3 separate regions of the Homo sapiens genome follow, and regions 1 and 2 are each linked to region 3. Evidence: fine-mapped expression QTL. A gene starts in region 3. Each other region holds a variant in brackets. All regions are shown on one strand. Distances are from middle to middle.

What was found. PIP is the estimated chance that this variant, and not a neighbour inherited with it, causes the effect. A credible set is the group of variants that fine-mapping cannot tell apart.
Region 1: its variant is the best candidate, but not a certain one, in a credible set for the expression of NDUFA10 in whole blood (INTERVAL, PIP 0.87).
Region 2: its variant is the best candidate, but not a certain one, in a credible set for the expression of NDUFA10 in whole blood (INTERVAL, PIP 0.71).

Annotation. Positions count from the first base shown.
Region 1 is chr2:239,971,146-239,975,345 of GRCh38, forward strand. The region is part of intron 9 of NDUFA10 (NADH:ubiquinone oxidoreductase subunit A10); the gene reads right to left. Among named protein-coding and RNA genes, the nearest start is that of MIR4786, 30 kb to the left of the region's middle. The variant C/T (reference allele first, on the strand shown) is at 2,150.
Region 2 is chr2:239,958,718-239,962,917 of GRCh38, forward strand. It overlaps NDUFA10 (NADH:ubiquinone oxidoreductase subunit A10), which reads right to left. Exons shown (of 10, transcript NM_004544.4): 10 at 1-2,469. The coding sequence ends at 2,401. Among named protein-coding and RNA genes, the nearest start is that of MIR4786, 18 kb to the left of the region's middle. The variant G/A (reference allele first, on the strand shown) is at 1,963.
Region 3 is chr2:240,023,379-240,027,578 of GRCh38, forward strand. NDUFA10 (NADH:ubiquinone oxidoreductase subunit A10) reads right to left here and starts at 1,964. Exons shown (of 10, transcript NM_004544.4): 1 at 1,849-1,964. The coding sequence starts at 1,923. RefSeq lists a silencer at 1,891-2,150 and an enhancer at 1,959-2,788.

The DNA of each region.
Region 1 (4,200 bases), 52 kb before region 3:
CTTTGTAAGAAGAAAGCAGAAAAGAACTTATTTGGTGAGTGAATGTGATTAACTTGATAGTAGATATATCTCAGGAAATGTCATTCAGGAGAAAGCCAAAGAAACCTCCTGAACAAGCACCTCCCCGCCCAGGTACATCGCAAGGGTCTCCAAGTAGGTCTTCCTTGAGTGTGGCAGCTGACTTGCTATTCCTGGCCAAGGCCATGGCTTTTCTCTACTGAACACCTATGCCACTCACTCTTTTTGAAGTGCTGTCCTGAGCCACCTCTGCCTCCTCGAATCCTGCCATGAAATAATGCCCCTTCCTTCTCAGAGCTCCCTTCATCCTTTGACTTTTCTTTGGTACTCATCACAAAGTTATGTCCAATGCAATCATTGATACACTTACTGATATTAGTGGGCAGCCTCTAAGTAGAAACCTTTTTACTAGTGTTATTTCCTGTGACCCTGACAGCATGAGGTAAAGGAAGGCACAGTCTCTGTTTTAAAAGAGACAGGGTGTTCAGAGACTTGACTTGCCTACGGTCACGTGGCTAGCTGGTGGCAGGCTGAAAGTGGAGCCCCGATCTTTTAATGATCAAGTCCAGGATCTTTTTCCCACTACAGCATGTAAATATTCGTTGAATTAAATTGTAACTTTTAGTGTGCTAACTCTTAAAAATAACACAATAAGCTCTTTCCTCAATCACATACTACTTATACGAGGTTTTACTGAATTCCCCTCATTCCCTCCAATTTTCCATTTATCTGTCAATCAGCATATATATAGTAAAGGTATGTTGCTCAAGGTCTCAGCTATGAGATTTCTTGGGTGTCTGTTAGGTTATGGTCCACAATCCACTCTACCCAGATAAAGGTGACTCCAATCTTTCTGCAGGTCCTTTCGTATGTAACTCAAAGCACTTCTCTTGGGGGATGTTTATATCCTAGTAGTCACCTCAGGGACATTCAAGGATGCTCAGTTTCCCAGCTGAAAGAGTTTTCATGAAGGATGTGTGTGTGTGTGTGTGTGTGTGTGTGTGTGTACATGTATACATATATTTGTAAATATATTGATAAATATTATACATATAAATAAATATGTGTATATTCCAGCAACAAACCCTTTATTGTATTACTGTAAATATATAAATTAAACAAAAAAACGATTGAGTGAGGGCCTGTGTACCGGGTGGGCTTCACTCTGCTGGGGCAAGCAATGGGTTATGCCAAGCATGACTGGCTCCCCTCTCTCTAGATGCACTAAGGAGCTTCAAAATACTGCAAAGTTCTGGGGTGATTTGGAAATTCCAGTTTCCAACTCCTATTTTCCATTATAACATATAAATGCTAATCAATTCTGCTTGGAGTTTTTCATTAATTTTAAAGAAGAGCACTATAGATATTAAAGACACTTCTCTGATACACAATTTCCCTTAATTTCCATTACTGTAGAACACAAATCGAATGTAACAAAATTGGCATAAATTTTCAAAAAATCTTTTAACAGTCAACTTTCAAAAACCATATTTTTATTTTGAAAATGTGTGTTCTATTTTTTAACACATAAAACTATAGCTTCCTACAAATATATCATTATTTAGCTGTCATATTTGTTGCAATGAGTATTAACAATAGTTCAAATGTCTTAATCCTCCTTAACTCTTATTAGCTGTGAATAATAGAAAAGCTCCTAACCTAAGTGCTTGTTTTAAACCTGAAAATGGTATGCTTTCTAAAAATTCTAAAGTAAATACAATCATATGTAACACACTGTAAAGTCAGGGCACTTGATTTTCCAGATTGCATGTAAGACAGTATCTTACCACTTTCCATCAGTAGACAGGCAGATACCACATACCACAGCAATCACATACAAACCAATGGACCTGGTAAAGATCACCTTTTATGCTCATCATCTTCTTCGAGGGACACATGCTGATAATTTTCCATACACAGAGATGTAAATAACTCGGGCATACAGATTAACGCCGAGTTTCTATGATTAATTTCCACAGTGCAGGTGGCAGGGCACAAAGTGGAGAGAACACTGAAGGCATTACGCATTTACTTTCAAACTTAATTAAGTAACTTATAAACTGAAAATTTGTATTTTAACACAACTAGATACCAAACTGAGTTCCAAGTAAGGTCTGAATGTCATGAGGAA[C/T]CTAAAGCAGTCACGTCTGGCCTTCCGTCTCCCGCATGTTTAGGTAAACTGATCCTAGTGCCTTTCTGTAAGGTGAATTTCATAAAGGCAAGAACATACAGTATTAACATATTAAAGTTAATAAAAACATCTCTGTTTTAAAAAATGGTAAGGGAGAACTCAATACTGAAAATGAAAACAACTTGAGATAGTAAAAGAAACAAAAATAGCAGGCGAGAAAACAGAAGATTCTGTTGTCCTAGCAACTATCTTGGACACGATCAGCTTCAAGGAGGGAACGATCAGCTTCAAGGAGGGAACGATCAGCTTCAAGGAGGGAGCACAGTATCTTAACAGCATCTGGCTTCCTTCCATTGAAGAGACTGAACTGGTAAAATAGAAACCAAATCACAGTTTGTCTAATCCAAAGAAGGGCTGTACAGAAATAAAAAGTGACCTGATACAATGTTTAAAACGTGACTTTAAAAAATCAGCAGCCTGTCCTGCACACATTCAGTATTTTCATGAACTTACACAGGGTCAATTCCGGGCACAAAATGAGGAGGGTCGCTAAGGAAAAACATGTTCATATATATTGCTCAGACCCCAGGTACACATGCCCCACTGAAAATGCTGCTTTACTTATTTATTTTTATTTAATTTTAGTTTTTTTGAGATGGAGTCTCACTCTGTTGCCCAGGCTAGAACACAGTGGCAATTCTGGCCCACTGCAACCCCCGCCTCCTGGATTCAAGTGATTCTCATGCCTCAGCCTCCCGAGTAGGTGGGATTACAGGTGCTCGCCACCACGCCTGGCTAATTCTTGTGTTTTTTAGGAAGAGACAGGGTTTCTCCATGTTGGCCAGGCTGATCTCCAACTCCTGACCTCAAGTCATCCGCCCGCCTCAACCTCCCAAAGTGCTGGGATTACAGGCGTGAGCCACTGCACCCAATGAAAACGCTGTTTTAGATGAAAACTTGGATTCCTGAGGCATCAGTGCCCTAGCGCTGGGTGTCGCCTAGAGTGTGGACAGGTGCCTGAGAGCCATCAGGACACTAGCCAGACAAGTGACAAGACAAACACTCCAAGGTCACAGGATCAACAAAACCAAAAATCATAAACCCTTCTATTCATATGAAAATCTAAGATCCACTCTGCTGTGAAAAGGTCTTTCTTTACTCGTCTGTGTACCCATGTCACCAGCATGTTCATCAAATGAGAGTGTGGATGTCCCCTCCAAATCTCATGCTGAGATGTAACTCACAGTGTCAGAGGTGGGGCCTGGTGGGAAGTGTTTGGATCATGCGGGCTGATCCCTCATGAATGGCTTGGGCCATCTCCTTGGTGATGAGTAGGCTCTTACTCTGAGTTCACACAAGACCTGGTCATTTAAAAATATGTGACACTCTACCACCAAAGATCTGGTCATTTAAAAATACGTGACACTCCGCCACCAAAGAGCTGGTCATTTAAAAATATGTGACACTCTGCCACCAAAGATCTGGTCATTTAAAAATATGTGACACTCTGCCACCAAAGATCTGGTCATTTAAAAATATGTGACACTCTGCCACCAAAGAGCTGGTCATTTAAAACTATGTGACACTCTACCACCAAAGAGCTGGTCATTTAAAAATATGTGACACTCCGCCACCAAAGAGCTGGTCATTTAAAAACATGTGACACTCCTCCGCCACCAAAGAGCTGGTCATTTAAAAACATGTGACACTCCTCCGCCACCAAAGAGCTGGTCATTTAAAAATATGTGACAGACACTCCGCCACCAAAGATCTGGTCATTTAAAAATATGTGACACTCCGCCACCAAAGATCTGGTCATTTAAAAATATGTGACACTCTGCCACCAAAGATCTGGTCATTTAAAAATATGTGACACTCTGCTGCCCCATTCTCTTGCTCCTGCCTTATTAGGATGTACCTGCTTCCCCTTTACCGTCTACCATGATTGTAAGTTTCCTGAGGCCTCCCCAGAAGCAGAAGTTGCTATGCTTCCTGTACAGCCTGCAGAACCGTGAGCCAATAAAACCCTCTTAAATAAATTATCCAGTCTC
Region 2 (4,200 bases), 65 kb before region 3:
TGGTTTTAACAGTTGATGGAACAGAAAGATACGTTAGAAAAAAACAAGGACTTTCTTTTCAATACAGAATTCTCATGCCTGTAAACACATGCCTGTATGAATAAAATCCAGACACAAAACCATACTGCTGCAACAGCATGATTATTTCCTGATCTCCAAAGCACTGAGAAGTCCAACATGGAATCCTGGAAAATGCACGATTATTTTGATCCTGGTTTGTTGGTGCTGTTGTTTTAGTTGTAAGAGCTTTCGTGAGACGAACGCATGTACTGCTCTGAAATAAGGAAATCGGGGCATCTCCTCACCTCTTCTTGAGGCTTCTATGTGGAGAGAAGAATTGGACAGTGTTTATTCATCTTTCTCTGCTGAACATGCATGTCATTGAAAACACCAGAAAATCAAACAGACGAATGTCCTCAGCACTACAAATTACATACTTCCCACTCCATCAAGGGAATGCAACCACACAGGGTCAGACGCAAACACAGGGGATGATCAGAGCACCCGAGTCCACACCATGCCGACACGGAGCCCTGCATGGTTGGAGAGCTCTGCCCCTCACAAGGGCAATCCTGACCACAGGGCAGACCTGCCCTCTCACTGCTGAGGACACTACCCGTGCAACCACCAAGGTTGAAGGAAACAGCTAGCTCTTTGCAGCCAAAGACATTAGGAACAGCTAAGATAATTAAAGATGGCTTTCTTTTTCTTTCCTCCCCTCCACAATGGGTTTGTGAAGTGCTCAGAGCAAAAGACACTCTGTGACTGGCCCAATGCCCAGCTGTGCTTTCATTTCATGATTAAAGCTGTTGGTTTCCTAGTGAAATGCAAAACTTCAGCCACTTAAATCTCGACTCCAATTCAAAACTCCTGGGAAACTTTATTTTCAAATTCTTAAAACAAGGAAGGAGGCAGGGAGGAAGGGAAGGGAGGAAAACAAGGACAGACGGAAGGAAGGAAGGAAGAGAAGGAGGGAAGGAAAGAGGCAGGGAGGAAAACAAGGACAGACGGAAGGAAGGAAGAGAAGGAGGGAAGGAAAGAGGCAGGGAGGAAGGGAAGGGAGGAAAACAAGGACAGATGGAAGGAAGAAAGGAAGGGAGGGAAGGAGGAGGAAAGAAGGAGGGAAGGAAGGGGAGAGGGAAAAAGGCAGGCGGACGCAAGGAGGGAAGGAGTGTGCATCTTCTTCGCATGCTCCGCAGCAGCGAGGCCTGGTAGAGCTTCCGCGGGGAGCAGAGCATCGTCCTCTGCACCAGCACTGGAACTACTGCCCACAGGCGGCTGTGGAGTGCCTGAACTATGGCCAGTGCAACCAAGGAACCCAATTTTAAACTCTATTACATTTTAGCTCATTTAAATTTCAATACCCACATGTGGCTAGGAGCTACCATATTGGACACAGTGGAGCTTTACAGTGGAAAACCCACAGTTCAGTAGGACTCACAACTGGCAGCCTGATTCCTAATGGACACAGTGGAGCTTTACAGTGGAAAACCCACAGTTCAGTAGGACTCACAACTGACAGCTTGATTCCTAAACCATGATGCTGAACCACAACCAGCTTGTTTTGGTTTTCTAGGCTTCAACAGAGATGAATAAAGAAATCTGATTTTCTTTCTCATTTCTCAGTTTTGACTGGCAACTTGATTTTCTGGGTAATAAAGAGAGTATATTATTTTGCTTTTGCATCTTATGTCATCAACAGCCTAAGCTCAAATCTCCCTTCAAAGGAGTTTGAGACGCTGAGGACGGCCACGTGAATCTTTCTCAACGTCTCTCTTAAAACATATTGTTCTGTAAATCTGTGGTAATTTTCTCCTTTTGCTATTTCTTCTTCACGTTCTTATTTTTTCTACTCTAATGTAGCACATTACTAAAATAAATACAGTAGGCCTTTAGAAAAACTCTTCAGCATAATGTAAGCCTCAATTAAACCACACCACACCAAACAGGGCCCAGAGCAGC[G/A]TGTGTGCACGTGTGCAGTTTCGACGTGCCCGCACGCACATAGACGTACGATGGGGAAATTCCCATGGAAACACTTTTATTTCTGGAAGTCAGAAGAAAAACAATGTGCACAACCTGAATGACACAGAGCGGCAGCGCTGAAACCACAGGGGCTGCCGAGAGCTGGCCTTTCACAGCAGACCACTGTTTTCCAGTGAGAATGGTGGGCCATTCCAAAACAAAGCTAAAGGGTTCCAAACATCCAGAATGGAAGCTGCTTCCCCCAACTCCATTACCTATACTACAGGATGGATTGCTTTTTGTGAGACCCCTTCTTCCACTGTGCAATTTTTGCATTATTTACCCTCCCCCGATCTTAAAGCTATATGGCGTCCAGGAGAGTGCGGCTGATGCAGCTTGGCCATCACTGTGATGCAGCTGGAGCAGAAGGCGGCCCGTTCACTTCAGCCAGATCCACTTGTCTCCCACCTCGGTGTTGTACCCAGGGCTGTACTTGCGGCCCGGCAGCTGTGGGGGAAAAAGGCATTGGTGCATTCTGTTTAACGTGAATGAATGTTTCCCCAGCTCATAGTTCAATGTCTACCCGGCAGATGCCTGTACTTCATGAGTTCCTTCAGCAATGCTGGTGAGCACATGATCTGTGGCAGGTGTCTCCTGTGAGTGCAAGGATGCCACAGGTACACAAACCACAACCCAGCCCTGCCTGCCAGAAGCTTCTGTCCTAGGGCTGGGAGCCACAAATGGAAACGAACTACTGAGTGTTCTCATTAATGTCAGGAGGGTGACAAGAGCCACAGGAGGGGGACAGAGAGCAATGGGTGGCACTTAGGGGAGGCCCTGAGCAGGGACAGCCACGCAGACACAGGGGTGGGGCTGGGACCCAGGAACCACAGTTCACCAACTGAAACACCGAGTTCTCTCTGAAAAAGCCCCGCGTGAAATTCCCTCTGAAGAGGGCCTGCAGAGGCCGGGCCGCTGGCTGTAAGGGGCCCTTGGCGGAGTAGGAAAGTGAGTTTCATCCAGGCCTTTTAAGTAGACATGGGCAGGGTTCAGGAAAACCAGCAAAGGAGGGGGAAGCACTGCAGGACTGACCCTAGCGGGAGCCACTGAACATCCAGGAGCGACAGGACGACAGAGCCCAGGAGGAGCGGATGCTGCCAGAGAGGCCAGTGGGGGGCTGAGCTTGGCAGTGATGGAGCTGCAGAAAGGATGTTACAGGCCCCACTTCTCCCACCATCTGGGAGAGATCAGGGGCTCAGGTGGCGGTCCACAGAGGCCAACCTCACAGGGCACAGGGAGATCTGGGGGGCAACAAGAGCCCCTGCCAGCACAAAGACGCCTGTTCATGAGGGTAGGCGGCCAGCACAGGGCTGGCTGAGACGGAAAGAGGAGTGTTGCTCCGCAGGACCACCTCGTTGCGGAGCCAGGAGAAAGCGCTCAGCACGGTGTGTGTCGCCCAGCGATGGCAGGTGGGAAAATGATGAGTTTTTTCATATTTTCAAATCAGCATGGGCACACAGTCAATTTGTGTACACACACACACACACACACACACACACACCCCTTCCAAATTCTGCCCTTAAGAACAGGTACTAAAACCATTTTTAAAAGAATCAGCTTTTCCTTTATCCTAATCAGCAGCAGGCATTCACAGCCATCCACACAGCCATGGCTGCCTGGATCACAAATCACTGAAATGTGCCTTGCCTGGCCTCTGCCACAGTGGCCACGCAGTGACAGACGAACACACAATGCATCCTATGAAGCAGCAGACAGGTCGCCCCAAGACCAGCCATCTCACACACAGGACAGGCAAAGCTCTAGGATCTTCAAGGCCCAGGAGCCACCCTTCCTCCTCCCCAGAAAGCCTCTCCTCTCCTAGGTGCACAGCTGTGAAGTGGGACCTGGAAGTGGAGGGGCCGGTGCTCTGTTAGTTCATTCTTGCACTGCTATAAAGACATACCCGGGGCTGAGAAATGCAGAGAGAAAAGAGGTCTAATTGGCTCATGGTTCTGCAGGCTGTGTGGGAAGCATGGTGCCAGCATCTGCTTCTGGGAAGGCCTCAGGAAGCTTCCAATCATAGTGGAAAGCAAAGCAGGGGCAGGTACGCCACATAGTGGGAGTAGGAGCAAGAGCAAGAGCATGAGGCGGGTAGGGGGTGGGAGCTGCCATATACTTTAAAATGAGAGGTCGACGCGCACTCTGTGAGAACATACTAATTACCTCCAGGAGGGCACC
Region 3 (4,200 bases):
TAGTTTTTCATGTGTCAAAATGAGAAATAATTTAAAAAATGATTACAGAGTTAGGACAAGACAATGAGTACCATCCTAAACTGCTAATGGTAATGAAACCTAGAGGACGCTGGGTCTACAGCATTAGGAATCCATTCAAAGAGTATATACATAAGATTGACCTATAAGGATGCTCAATGAAGTATGATGTAACACCAAAAATGCAAATAGAAACCCTTAAATGTCCAACAACGGAGGAATAGTTAAACAAAATTAAGGCATATCCATATTATGGAATACTAAGTACTCAGAAAAACACAAAAATATTAAAATACTTTATAGTGAAATTTAAATAAAACAGGAGAATATGAAATATCAAGATATTTTTCGATCTTGATTTGATAACTGAAGAGTAAGGAAGAAACAAGTTACAAAACAAGGCAAAGCAGACAACCCAATTTAAAAATGGGCAAAAGATGTAAACACCTCTCGCAAATGAAATTAACGCAGATAGCAAATAAGTATATGAAAAGATGAACACTGTATATCATGAGATATTCCAAAGTTGAAACAAGATACCACTACGCAGCTATCAGAATGGATAGCAATCCAAAGTAACCGACAGCCCCGCATGCTGGCGAGCACGCAGAGCAACAAGGAGAGCCTTCACTTCTGGTGGGAGTCAAATGGCACAGTCACTCTGGAAGATGGCTTGGCAGCTTCTTAGAAAACTAGTCTTACTACATGAGTAATCGCTCTTCCAGGTATTACCCAAATGATATAAAAATGTATTTCCAAAAAGAAATCTGCATGTACACGATTACAGCAGCTTTATTCATAATTGCCAAAAACTTGAAGCAACCAAGATGCCCTTCAATTGCTGAATGAATTGAAGTACATCCATGCAATGAGATATTACTCAGTGATTAAAAAGAAATGAGTTACCAAGCCACGAAGACATAAGTGAATCTTACATAGATATTTCCAAGTATTCAAGGCGTCTGAAAAGGCAATATATTGTATGATTCTAATTATATGACATTCCAGAAAAGGCAACTATGGAAATGTTAATGAGATCTGTGGTTGTCAGGGGTTGGAGAAAAAGAAGGGTTTAATAGGTAAAGCAGAGGGGAATTTTTTAAGGCAGTGAAGCTACTCTGTACGAACCTATAATGGTGGAGACATGCTATTACACACGTGTCAAAACCTATAGAACCTTATAGCACAAAGAAAAAATCCATAGAACCTTATAGCACAAAGAATGCGCTCAATGTATGCACATTTTAAAAAACGCATTAGGTAGAAGGATCCCAAGATGTAAGGCAGAATGTGACAAAGCAATCCAACTGTGTTACAAATGTATGAAACGATTTCACTGAAGAAGGTGGGGGCAAAATGCTAAGAAATGAGAGTAGTCAGTCAGAGTAAAGGCAAAAGGAAGCGGACACAAGCACTGAACTCCGTGTCTGCTCAACATGGCATCACCCAAGCACCCAGCAGGGCCCGACCTTTAAACGGCTCTTGACAGGGCTGCTACGTGAATTATCTAATGACAAGCGCGTGTGCCCCCGGCCTGCCACCTGCACACGGGCCTCCCGCATCAGGGCAGCCTCGGGGCCCTGATCACCTCCGCGCTCCAGCGTTTTGCTTAAAGCTGAGATAAAATGGCCTGGAGAAGCTCGTGGCCCCCTGAGGTCTGTCCACGACCAAAGACCAAACAATTCCGGAGGCAGGAGGGGTCCCCCAAACCCACCCGGAGAGCGACCTGGGAGCCGCCGCCAGAGGCCGGGGGAGATGTGGAACTGCTCCCCACCCCGCCACCCCGCCACCCTGCCACCCCGCCACCCTGCCACCCCGCCGCCCGCTCACCACGCGCTGGGCGCCCGCCGCCACGACCCGGGCGGACGCGGACGTCGCTGCCAGCTTCAGGAGCCGCAAGGCCATGGCTACCCGGTCAGCTCAGGATCAAGGACCCAAGGGGACGCGGTCGCGACGGGGCCCTCTCTCGCGGCCGGCGCGCTGCCGTGACGTCACGGCCGGGGTGCCCGCGGCGCCTGTCGGGAACCTTCCAGGGGGCGGGGCCGCGCCGAGGCCCTCGGGGGCTTCCGCGGAGACAGCCAGTGCGCTGCCAGGGTCCTGCGGGTTGGGGCGAGGGCCGAGAGGTGGGAGTTGGAGGTGAACGTGGGGGCAGCATGCTGGCTGCCCGGCCCCTGCCTGGGTTCTGAGTTGCTGCGGTGTCGCGGGAGCTGAGGCCGCCCAGGGCGTGGAGCGACTTCTGCGTCTCGTCCCAGGGTCCTGTGCTCCCCGCAGAATCCCCCAGGCGCGGTGTGGACGTCAAAGCGACCTCCTAGAGAACATTCCTAGCTCTCAGAACGTTCTCGCTGGGGAGGGAAAGTGGAAAAAGAGGGGGCGAGGAGCGGAGGGACGGGGTGGGACCCCTGTCGCGGGGCGCCTGTCAGGGAGAGGGACCTGGCAAGGCCGGCCTGGGTCGCCTCCGGAGCTGAAGGCTAAGTGGTCTCATCCAGGGGACCTGCTGTGAACACATTGAATAGCATAGAAAACAAAAGCACACGCTCCAAGTCCATCTCTTTTTTTTTTTTTTTTTTTTTTTTTTTTTTTTTTTTTTTTTGAGGCAGAGTCCCGCTCTGTCGCCCAGGCTGGAGTGCGGTGGCGCCATCGCGCTCACTGCAAGCTCCGCCTCCCTGGTTCACGCCATTCTCCTGCCTCAGCCTCCCGAGTAGCTGGGACTACAGGCGCCCGCCGCCACACCCGGCTAATTTTTTGTATTTTTAGTAGAGACGGGGTTTCACCATGTTAGCCAGGATGGTCTCGATCTCCTGACCTCGTGATCCACCCGCCTCGGCCTCCCAAAGTGCTAGGATTACAGGCGTGAGCCACCGCGCCGGCAAGTCCATCTCTTAAAATGTGCTCCCGTCAGGACCTGGGCTCTGGGCTCCACGAAGGAGCCTTGCATGTGAGGTTTCCTTCCAAGTATGCCTGCTGTTGGGAAGGGTTTTTATAATCTTTTGTGTTCCCCAGGCTTTTTGTTCTTAACCCCTTAAATATTCTTTAACTTTGTTTTCAACTTTTCAGAAATGATCATGCGATTGTAAAACAGTGGGAATGCAGCTGTGTAAACTACGGCCGGTTCTATGGATGTTTCTATAATTGAAGAATTGCTTTTTGTCAAAAATACGGATTCCCGGTCCCCAACGCAGGAGGGTCTGGTTTTTAGATCCTGGAGGGCACCTGAAATCCATTTAACAAGCTTTAGGGTTCATGTCTGCTGTTTTTTGCCTTGTTTCCTTTGCATTTTTTTTTTTTTTTTTTTTTTGTGCCTTCCAATGGATACAGTACATTTTTTTAGAATTCCATCTTGATTTACTGATAATGTCTTGGGAAATATCATTATGTATAGTTTTCGTAGTGGTTCCTCTAGGTATCACAGCACGCAGACGTAACTTCTCACAACCTGTTTGCGTGGATGTTTTGTTGTACCTGAGCGAGTTAGAAAAACACCACCTTTGAGACGAATTAAGAGTCCTTTATTAGCTGGCGACCGAGAGACGGCTAACGCTCAAAATTCTCTCAGCCCCGAGGAAGGGGCTTGATTAACTTTTATACCTTGGTTTAGGAAGGGGGGGGGGTCTAGTTAAAACAATTTTACAGAAGTAAAGTAGTCAAAAAGTTAAAAGGGTAAATGGTTACAGGAAAGTAAACAGTTCAAGGTGCAGGGGCTTTAAGACTATTACAAGATGATAGACCCGGGGCTTTGGGCGTTATCAATCGGACAAATTCCTGGGAACTGCGGATGTAGCTTGCCACAGTATCTTACCAGTTAATTGCATTCTTGGATGTGGTGGGAGTCAGCCTGCACAAGTTAAGTCCTTGAGAAAGGGGCTGCCAGTGAAAGAGCCAAGATGGAGTCTGTCTGGCTCTCTTAGCTAAGGGAGAGTCAATTCAGGTGGAAACAGGGCTAGGTGATTAAAGGAAAAGGGAGAGTCTGAAAACAGTTAGTAAAAACCAGGTTGGGCATTACAGTTTTACTGGTTCAAGGGAAGTATTACTATATACTTCCCCGTCCCTCCGCTTCTCGCCCCCCTTTTTCCGTTTTCCCTCCCCAGCTAGAACGTTCTGAGAGCTAGGAATGTTCTCTAGGAGGTCGCTTTGACGTCCACACTATATTAGACAGCATGAAAATAACTTCAGACCCCAATAGAC